Linked DNA regions of Homo sapiens: region 1 is linked to region 2. Evidence: fine-mapped expression QTL. A gene starts in region 2. The other region holds a variant in brackets. All regions are shown on one strand. Distances are from middle to middle.

What was found.
Region 1: its variant is fine-mapped to the expression of MIDEAS in cerebellum (GTEx, PIP above 0.99). The same link has a PIP of 0.9 or more in cerebellar hemisphere.

Annotation. Positions count from the first base shown.
Region 1 is chr14:73,715,942-73,721,189 of GRCh38, reverse strand. MIDEAS (mitotic deacetylase associated SANT domain protein) reads left to right here. Exons shown (of 13, transcript NM_001367710.1): 12 at 1,689-1,885; 13 at 2,182-5,248. The coding sequence ends at 2,347. Among named protein-coding and RNA genes, the nearest start is that of PNMA1, 4.2 kb to the right of the region's middle. RefSeq lists an enhancer at 1,765-2,375. The variant T/C (reference allele first, on the strand shown) is at 2,976.
Region 2 is chr14:73,758,006-73,763,475 of GRCh38, reverse strand. It overlaps MIDEAS (mitotic deacetylase associated SANT domain protein), which reads left to right and starts at 3,173. Exons shown (of 13, transcript NM_001367710.1): 1 at 3,173-3,713. MIR4505 (microRNA 4505) reads right to left here and starts at 4,729; the gene lies at 4,657-4,729. RefSeq lists enhancers at 905-1,204, 806-1,327, 1,328-1,850, 2,766-3,095, 5,156-5,205 and silencers at 3,516-3,755, 3,886-4,035, 4,396-4,505.

The DNA.
Region 1 (5,248 bases), 42 kb after region 2:
TAGCAGGAAATGTGTGAAGTACTTTGTGCTGTTAACTCATTTAATCCTCACTACCCTATGTGGTTAGGTATTACTGTTATTCCCATTTTATAGATGGGGAAATTGTGGCCCAAGATAACACAGCTAGTAGGCAGCCTGAATCCAGAGTCTGCGATTAATTTTTATACTCTACTGCTTCTGTATCTGAGATTCAGAGGGAAAAAGGTTTTGTGAAAACCCAGTAGGTATGTGGGTCACTGAGGGAGCATTGGTGGTTTGCAGACAGGGCTCCCCTAAGAGAGCCAGAGTCCCTGACAAGAATGAGACTGAGCTGAGACCATGGGAATGACAATCATAGGCCCTCAGGCATGATCTCTGCAAAGTGCTTTCATTTCCATTATCTCATTAGTTCCTCACACTGCAGAGTTAACCTCTACTCTGCAGATGGGGGAAAGCAGTTCAGAGATGCTAAGTGACTTGCCCCAGGTCCTTGGACTCCTAGTGCAGTGCTCTGTCCACCATATCACAGGCCAAGAAACAAGACTACTGGCCATAGTTGCTCCTTGCCAGGGAGAGTTCTCCCAGAAAGGGGTAAGGAGGGGAAGGGGTTTATTGGGGAGCTGCTGCTTTTTTAGAGTCTTTTTTTTTAGAAATGTATGTAGTAGGCCGGGCGCAGTGGCTCACACCTGTAATCCCAGCACTTTGGGAGGCCAAGGTGAGTGGATCACCTGAGGTCAGGAGTCGAGACCAGCCTGGCCAACAAGGTGAAACCTCATCTCTATTAAAAATACAAAAACTAGCTGGGCATGGTGGTGCACGCCTGTAATCCCAGCTACTCCAGAGGCTGAGGCAGGAGAATCACTTGAACCCAGGAGGTGGAGGAGGCGGAGGTTGCAGTGAGCCAAGATCATGCCACTGCACTCCAGCCTGGGTGACATAGCAAGACTCCATCTCAAAAAAAAAAAAAAAAAAAAGGAATGTGTGTAGTACACTCATGCTTACAGAGCTCCCATAAACTGTAAACACACGGCTGTGTGCCCACTTCTGAGCCTCGACCACCTGCACCAAGAGCTGTGCTCTGTGTAGCGCTCTACAGAGTTCTGTTGACTTTTGTGAACTTTCCCATGAGGGTGCCACTTCTGATGGCCACCCGGGGCTTCCCCAGCCGAGGTCACCTCTGCTCCCTCTGCTCTGCACTCTGACCCCTGCCCTTGCCCTGTTTGGTGTCCCTGCAGTGCGCTGTCCTGAAGTAGCTACCTGCGCATCTGTCCCTTCCACCAGATCCTCAGCTCTGAGGGCAGGGATGCCTGTGTCAACCTCTTTGTCCCTAGCATCTGGCCCATCACAGGGGCCTGAATCTCATTTATAGAACAGGGCATGAGCGGACTAAATGACAGAAAACATCAACAGGTAGGTGCTTCATTAACCCAGAGACCAAGATCCCCTGTCAGGCGCATCAAGGCCTCTAGCAGCTCGGGCTGCCCCACAGAATTACTCTAGCAGCAACTTTGTAAACGATAGAGCTGACCAGAGATGCAGAGTTGGAGGAGGCAATGGTCGTCATATCCCTGGAAGGACCCAAGTGCATGCTAGGTGACTGTTTGGCAGGAATATATATGACTTTTCAGGCCCCCGGTTCCCTGCGATTTTAGAATTCCAGATCTGCGCTTGCTCAGATCACTCAACTCTCCTTGTTTGATTTTCTTCAGGCCAGTGACATCCTCATCCTCCGGAGCCACGAGTCCAACGCCCCTGGGTCTGCCGGTGGCCAGGCCTCGGAGAAGCCAAGGGAAGGGACAGGGAAGTCACGAAGGGCACTACCTTTTTCAGAGAAGAAGAAAAAAACAGAGACATTCAGTAAGACCCAGAATCAGGAGAACACTTTCCCCTGTAAAAAATGTGGCAGGTAAGGTGGGCAGCGCTGTCCCCGCTGGGACCCCCGCGGGCTGGTGCGCGGAGGGGGCGGGGGTGGGGTGGAGGGGAGGGGGAAGAGGTACAGGCGGTGTCCGCCTCGTTTCTGGTTGGCTCAGCGGGTTTCTAGGGCTGTGACGTCATGGGGCAGCTTTCGGAAAATGACGCGAGCTGGCCGGCCGCGGCTGTGCAGCGTGGGGGTGAAGGTGAAGGCTGGGGCTCCTCGCGCACCCGCGCTGGGGGCCCCCGGGTGGGCTAGGCCGGTTCTGAGCAACCCCCACCCGGCTGCAGGGTGTTTTACAAGGTGAAGAGCCGCAGTGCGCATATGAAGAGCCACGCAGAGCAGGAGAAGAAGGCTGCAGCGCTGAGGCTGAAGGAGAAAGAGGCCGCTGCTGCCGCCGCCGCCGCCCACCAGCAGGCCCTGCGGGAGGAGAGCGGTGCGGGCGACAAGGGCTGAGCGCGGGAGCCAGGCTGGCCCAGTCCTGGGCCTCGGCCCTTCCCGCACCGCCGCCAGCGCCCGCAGACACCCTGGCATCTCAAGAGGGAGTGAGGAGAGGATTGCAGGGACTTTTCCCTGCGAAACAAATGAGACAATGACATAAACGGCTCTTTTATTTATGAAGGCCCTGGGAGCAGCGTTAAGGGCTCCAGGATCCAGCTCTCTTTGCATTTGGTCTGTCGGAAGCTGTCCTCGTGCTTTCCTGGACCGGGAGAGTCCCGGTCCCCTCGGGAGGGACTCCACCGCCTCTCACACTCCGATTTCTGCTGCTCTGCTGCCCCGCAGTCTTTTCCCTTTATTTGCTTCCCCCTCCTCCCCTCGGCCTCCAGGAAGCCACCGTGGCCGGCCAAGCACAAGCTCACCCACTTTGGAGCAGCATTTCTCCTCCCCAGAGGACCTCGAAGGCTGCAACGGCCCTGCCCCAAGCCCCAGAAAAAGAAACTCTTGGAGGGAGTCTGCGGGCTTCTCTGAGAAGGGGCGCAGCCTGACACCTGTGCTGTCCCTGCAGTCTCTAGGCCTGTCTGAGCTGCTCCCGTGACCGTGTCCTGAGTGGCCACCTCCTCCTTGGGAGGGAGGCCGCGGCAGG[T/C]ACTCTCCCTTTGCTGCTTGCTGGCGGCCTTGCTAGGGCTAGAAAGTTTTCTCAGCGTTGGGGGAGGGGCTAGCGTTCTTGTCCAAAGCACTCATCCTGCTGCAGGGAAGGGAGCTGTACGGAGGCTGGAAGCTGCAGGGTTAGGCCCGAGAGAGCTTTTGACAAGCCTGGCTCTTCCTGCTTCCCACCTTTTTGGCTGAATACCTTTGGGTCCTGGAGGCTGCCAAGGGCGCTTCGCCTTGAGCAGGTCCCGGAGAGGCTCAGCCTGCCCCTCCTGGGGCCAGCCTCCTTGCCTCTGCTCTGACCTCAGCAGCTACACCTAACCCCACCGCACCCTACCCAGTGTCGATATCCACAACCCAGCCCCCAGGCCTGCACTTTGGAGATTTCTGGATCCTTCCCTGGGAGGGAGAGGTCTCCTAACTCGATTGGACAGGAGCCTTCATTCCTTGACTCGTGTCATTTGGGAGCTATTTATTTATTCTTAGTATTTAATTTTTAACATCCTCTCAGGGACCAGGGGCCTCCTGCTTTTCAGAGGCCCGAGTGCATTTATCCCAAAACGAGGCATCTTGACATCCCCTATCCCCACCCCCTAAATTCCCAAGGCCCTAAGGTCCCTCACCTGGTTGCTCTGGAAGCTCTTGCTGATAGGAATGATAGCAACACTGAAAGAGCGTGGGAAGGTGGAGGGTGTCACCAGACCCACACAGAGCAAGGGAGATTAAGGCAGTTCTTGCTGCCCCTTCTCTGGCTGTGCTTTGCCTGAGGGAAGAGTTGGCAAGAGGCCAGAATTCTAGTTTGGTTTATGGGGCCTGGATTCTGGCTTGAAGAAGCCATATTTGGCATGGGTGAAGTGAAAGGGCCAGGAGGTTCTGGAGGCCCCTTCACTTCCAGTCCCATAGCGGGGCTCAGCTATTTTTCTGATCTTATTCAACTTTAGTTGTGCAAAAGAAATTCTAAGTGAATGCGCGTATGACAGGTCAACGTATTAGGAAGGAGCCAGAAAGTATTCATACTGCTACTCCTTATGAGATAGCCAAGAAGCATCATGTCAGTAACTGGGAGTGGAGAGGGAGTTTTGTTTTGAAACTATGCAGGTATTTTTCAGCATCCATTTGTACATTAGTATGGTTCTACAGGACCCCAGCTGTGGAAGTAACAAATTTCTTCTCCCTCCAGACTCTTGGATGACTACCTAGATCCCCAGCTTACCGGTTAGTTTCCTCCACAGGCTTCCATGAGCTCAGTGTCCCAAGACAGCAAAAATCTGGTATACCCTGTAGAAGCAGGGGGGTAGCAAATTTAGGCTCTCTTCGAAATTACTTGTACAATACGAGTGCCTTCGCAGCTTAGCCCCAAAGTGCTACTTATGTTTCCCAAGGTCTTTTCTATTCAAATCATATTTGGTTTCAGGCCCCTTTATGGGCATACGGTAACAGAAACCTCCATCATTCATATGAGACCCTTTTGTCAGTGGTAACATCTTGTACTTGGAAAAAAAATTTTTTTTTTTTTTTTTTTTTTTTTTTGAGACAGAGTCTCATTCTGTCGCCCAGGCTGGAGTGCAGTGGTGTGATCTTGGCTCACTGCAACCTCCGCCTCTTGGGTTAAAAGAATTCTCCTGCCTCAGCCTCCTGAGTAGCTGGGATTATAGGCACACACCACCACACCCAGCTAATCTTTTTGTATTTTTTTTTTTAGTAGAGACAGGGTTTCGCCATGTCGGCCAGGCTGGTCTTGAACTCCTGACCTCAGGTGGTCCACCCGCCTCGGCCTCCCAAAGTGCTGGCATTACAGGCGTGAACCACCGTGCCTGGCCGGAAGTCTTTAAAAAATAAAGTGATTCTACTCTTCTAAGCTTACAGAGACCAGACCAGGTGAATGTAACTGGGGAAAATCAAGATGGTACCTCTCTGCATTATCCCGCCAGACACTGTATTTTATGCATTCATGTCTAGGATACAGTGTGAAAATTAAAAAGTTTAGAGGGCAGATGCAATTGTGGCAAGTGACCTGCCAATAAAGCAGGTGCAGCTATAGAAGCTGGCATAGGTATATCCTTAATGGTGCTTTCTCCCTGGGCTTGTCTTTTTGTTGTTTTTTTCCCCCTATATTCAGAGCTCCTTGAGAAGTGATAAACACCTCCAGCTTTCTAACATCCTCCCCACACCATCTCACCATATCCATCTCCCAGCATCCATCTGCATTCAGCTAAGGGCGGGAAACTGACCTAGTGCCTGTGTTGCAGACCATTTCTGAGGTCTCCACCA
Region 2 (5,470 bases):
TGCAGACTTATTGGAGGAAGGTGGCTGGGAGGTGAGAACCTGGCTTCCTTGGAAGCTTTCCCCCAACTTCGTAACAGCTTTATTGAGATATACTTCACACACCATAAAATTCACCCTTGGAAGATTTTCTTTTTTCTTGAGACAACGTCTCACCCTGTCACCCAGGATGGAGTGCAGTGGCGTGAACACAACTCACTGCAGCCTTGACCTCATGGGCTCAAGCAATCCTCCTACCTCAGCCTCTTGAGTAGCTGGGACCACAGGCATGTGCCACCACACCTGGCTAATTTTTGTATTTTTTTGTAGAGACTGGGTTTTGCCACGTTGCCTAGGCTGGTCTCTAAACTCCTGCGCTCAAGCACTCCTCCTGCCTCAGCCTTCTAAAGTTCTGGGGTTACAGGTGTGAACCACTGTGCCTGGCCTCATCCTTGGAAGATTTTAATGGTCTAGATACTGCTGATGAAACACAGGGCAGTGACAGACCGCTCTGAGTGGAGTCCAGAGAGCTGATGTGGCCCTAGGAAGCCTCTCAAATTTGCCATATTCTACCTTTATTGGGAATCAGAGTTTAGGATTCTGTCTAGGGTGCTTTATTTCCTGGAGTGTTTCTCTCTTGTCACACTCCCTGGTAACTGGAGCTCTGTACTCCTTTTTCGTGCAGTTTGTAAAGAGGGTTGAGGGTGGAGAAAATCCAACTCTGTGGATAAGGTCTCTGGAACACCTCCCCATTTCCCTGAAAGGTCAACCTTCTTGGTTGCCCCAGAGACTTGTAGCAGGGGCTGGAGCTTCTAAAACCAAAACTTTCACTTCACACGTCAGTGATTCTGCACCGTCATATCTGCAGCAAAACTGACCTCCAGGGCTTTCCCGGAAGCGCTGCAGCTTTCTTTACATAGCCTCATCTGCCCGCCTTTTTGAGGTAGACTTCTCCTGCCAAGGGGGGGCTATTTGGTATAGTCTTGAGCCCTCCTCCCCTGCACACATGTGTGCCCCTTTTCTTCTCTCTCCTTTCTTAGGTGGCCTGAATTTGGAAGTTTAGCTGTAGTGAAGGGCGGTGCCGCTCCAAGGTGAGCAAGGCTCCTTCAGGGCCACTGACTTCTCTGTTTCCCCTGCCACCTGCCTCCACTATGTATGCTGCTTCCTGGGCCACTCCTTTGGAGTGGCTTTCACCTGTTCCCTGAAGGCTGGGCCCTGGCTCCATGATGGCAGGCTCTTCTAGCAATGTGCTTCCCAGTCAGGTTTTCTGGTTGGTTGGGAACATCCCTGGGCTGGTCTGCACAAGCTCTTAGGGGCTCACTCTGGGCTGGCCTAAGGCCAACTGCAGGGGCTGGGCTCTCAGGGGAGGTGAGGATGGCCACAGGTCTGCAGAGGAACTTGGCAGCAGTGGGCACTGGAGACCAAATGGCTTTGCTTTTGCTTCCCTCACTTGGATGTGTTGTCAGTGGGAGGGAAGAAATCAGGCAAATGAAAAAAGTAAAAAGGCTCTACCCTGATCCTTTGCCAGGAGCCCTGAGAGTCTGGCCTCTGCTTGGGGGTCTGCAGGCCTGAGCACTGCAGTTCCTCAATTGCTCACTGCCTTCCTCTGGGGGAGGAGCAGAGAGGTCACAGATGCTTGGCTTGCCCTGTGACCTGGTGCAATTCACTTAACCTCTCTGAACCTCAGTACATCCACAGATTGAGAGAGATAAAACTCACATGCAGGGCTCTTCAGGAGACTGTATGGAGAAGTGCTCTGAGAGCTGCCAGGAACAATACTGTCATCACAGATGCTAAATCGGGGAGCCCGGGCTTTTTTTTGTAGAAGGTGGTTTCCCTAGCTCCTCTATTCACTTACTGTAATCACAGAATCATGGATCTTGAACTGGAAGGGATCTCAAGAGGTCCTCTGGTCCAGTCCTGTGGCATAATTACCTGTATTTTGTAGATAAGATTGTTTTAAGTGTTCCTTATTTTGACATATCTATCATAACATGGTGCAAATAAGCCCTTCTCCTCTTGGGGAGGTGTGACTTCCAGGTGTACATGTACGCAGGTGCTCCAGCCAGCAAAGAGGTGGAAGAGGACAGGAAAGCCATGCCCCCTTAGAAGCAAGTGCAGGTTTGGCAGGATTTCTGGGCAGAAGATCCAAGTTTTGCCTGTGTCCTCCACACCCCACCCTGGCCCTGTAGGCCCAGTGAGTGTGTGAGAATCATATTCTGCTGCCCCTCCCTCCTCTTCTCCCTGAGAAAGTGAGGGATGCACCTGGTTCTCAGGTCTGGCCACAGTGTTTTGAAAAGTGGCTGCCAGGACACATGGTATTCTTCGGTGGTTTTTCTTTCAAAGGAAAATCTCCTTGTGACCCATCTCCTTGAAAAACAGCCACCGCCACCACCGCCGCCGCCACCACCACCACTGCACCACCACCAAAAAACTTGGAAGGAAGAATAGGACACACTCCCCTGAACTTTCCCCTGGCCCTAGAGCCCCATTGAATGTGGGGGCCAGAACCAACCTCTTGAGCTGCAAAAATGTTTTCCATCTTCCCACCAGTCAGGCAAGGAGGCATCAAGGCCTGGACCTGAGAATTGATCAGGGGGATATTTAGGGAAGACAGGGGAAAATGTGAGTATGGAGTGAAAAGCCGCTCAACTCTGGCCTGAGTTGCTAGATTTAAATCCAGGAGATTTTCCTCACCTAAGCGATGGAGATGGTGGGTCCTTTCTAGGGACTGAGGCCAGTTTCTCAATAACCTTTACACGCACCAGGACGCTTTTGAGCCAGAAAGTGAAACTCGGAGAGTCTGTTAATAAAATGCCATGGAGAGGATTGTGCATGATTTACCGTATCCAAAACCAGAGAGAGTTTCTTTGTGGAAGAAAGCGACTTGTGCCTTCCCCAGCATCACACACACACTTTCCTGGCAGGCTCAATGGGTTTCCAAACATTTCGTCACCGTCTCCTCCTGACCTTGGTGTGAAAGGAACTAGCAGCGTGGCCCGCCAGCAAAGCCATCGGGGGCGCCAGCCTGGGCGGGGGATGGGGACGGCGACCGACTCGTGAGTGGAGGTGAGGTCTGCTGGAAATCCCCAGCCCCGGCCGCCGCCTGAGGTTTAAGGACGCCTTCCCCGGCCTTATTTGGTCGCAGGAAGTGGGCGGCGCCGGGCCTGCTGGCTGAGGCCGCCCCGAGACAGTTGTGCTGATGAAGTGGTAGAGCTGGTTCCTGCTCGCCGCGGTGCCGCGCGCGCCGGCCGGCCGCTGGGCGCTCCGCGCTCCCAGCCTCGAGTTGTGCAATCCTTTGTAGCACGCCAGAGTCCTCCTCCTCCGCTGTTGCCTCTCGCCCTCTCTCTTTTTTTTTTTTTCAAGCTGTGAGCTCAACCGATGAGTCAGAGCCGTGCAATCCTGACACTGCATCGCAGGACTGGGGGTGACACGGAGGGAGGCAGAGCGCTCGCGAGGCGGACGGCACGGGTGCGGGGCGCGCCGAGGCTCCTGCATCGCAAGCGGGGGGTGACAGCCCGCGCGTCCCGCCCGGGCCCTGCCAGCAAACTTCTCAGCCTCGGGAGGCGCGGGCTGGCGGAAGCCCCGCGAGCGCCGCGGGGAGGCGACGGCGCCTGTTTGTTTTTAAAATCGGGAGTGCGTGCAGGCGGCTGGAGTCCCGGAGGCGACCGAAGGCGGCGACCCGCGGCGGAAGGGGGACAGCCGAGCCCGGAGCCCGGAGCCCGGGCAAGAGCTGGGTAAGTGGGGCTGCCTGGCCGGCGGCCGAGGCCTGCACGCGGCGGGGCCGGCGAGGGGACCCCAGGCGGCGCGCGAGCTGTGGCTGCTCGCACGGCGGGTTGCAGCTCTGCAGGCGCGGCCCGGAGAGGGGGCCGCGGGGGCCGCTGCGCTCGAACTTCTGCGGCCTGGGCGGCGGTGGAGCGGGCGCGTGTGGCCGTGCGGGGGCCGCCTGCAGCCCGCCGCCCCCTCCCCCGCGGTCCGCGCCCTCGGCCCGCAGCTGCGTGTGCAGCGCAGCCCCGCGGTGTTTGTGCAGCTACGCAGCTTGCGCGCGGCCCCCGCCCACCCGGGCGCGGCCCCGCCAGGAAAGCCCTCCCCACCCGGCGGCCCGCGGCGGCTCGGGAATCCGGCTGCTCCTCCTCCGCTGGAGAGAAACGTGGTGTCCGTGGGGACCGGCTGACGTGACGGAGCCCAGGCCCGGAAGGCGCGGCGAGGGGCTAGCCAGCTGAGGGAACTTGGCGCGGGAGCCCCTTCCCCTGCCAGCGTGCACGGGAAAGTGGGCCTGGACGCGGCGTCCACGCCAGGAGTTTGGGGGACAGAGGTGCAGGGGCGTTGGGGAACTGGGGCAAATGCAGTCAGCAGAGGCCTAGGCTGGAGCGCTTCGCGCGGGCGGGCGCACCTCAGACCTGTCATCCTCCCGCGCGCCCCCGCACGCCCGCGCCGCCGCAGCCCTCCCAGCCCGCGCGGTGCCTCGCGGGGAGCTGTGTTCCCTGGTGCCTGGCGGCAGCGCCGAAACCCGGGATTCGGCCGGGCCCTGCATATGGCCGGCTTGGTGGAGCTGGTCACGTCGCCTCCCAAGTCGCACATGCAGGACCATGTGTGTCAGGTTGCCCCCAAGGCCTCTGGGTAAAGGTCTAGGGGAGGAAGGGGAACTTCGTGTGCCCTGGGGCCTTCAGGCTTCAGCCCCAAGGCGGGCCGACATGGAGGAGGTACCTGCCACAGAAAGTGGAGGCCGGGTGTCCGTCCCAGCCCAGCCTCCAGCGAGAGCTGGTGAGAAGATGAAAGGGGAAGTTATATGCCCCATTTAAAACTTTGTTGGTCACAACTACGGTGGCTGCTTCCTGTTTCCACCATCCCACGTGGGACCTGTGTGCCAGCCTGTGGAGCCTCGCGCGGGGGGCGGTGGGATGGGGGAAGAGAGGCTGGCCACGGAGGCCCCGGTGGCCCGCGTATGCAGGGGATCCCTGTTGGCAGCTGCGGCTGGGGGAGGGAGGGGATGTCTGGCTTGCTCCAGCAGGGGGAGCCTGGCCAGGTGATCTGGGATCTTCTTGTTCCTGTAGCTTCAGGGTTGAGACTGAAGGCCTAGTGAAGGTGGACCGAGAAGCCAGTCCTCCCTAGGGGGCCTCAGCTGAGGGGAGAAACCACCTGTCTTGCTCTAGAGCCTCCCACCAAAGGTGTGGCACACGCCCCTTTTGGATCAGAGAAATGCACCCTTTCCTTGGGTGTTAAGTGGCTTCAGAACCCAGGGAAAAGGAGAAGCCTTCCCGGGTTGAGAATTCGTAGGTCTTCCTTTTCCAACTGCTCTGGACAGTGAATAATAGGAGCGTAAACATTCAATTACTGTGATAAACCATCTCGTTGCATGGCCCTGGTCCAGTCTCCACTCTAATTGGATTGGCCTCTGGCTGGTTACTCTGGTCCGTGTAGCTCCCGGGGGGACAAGGGGGTGAAGAACCTGGAGGATGCCCCCAGGTCATACAGCTTGCCAGCTTGCTCTGGA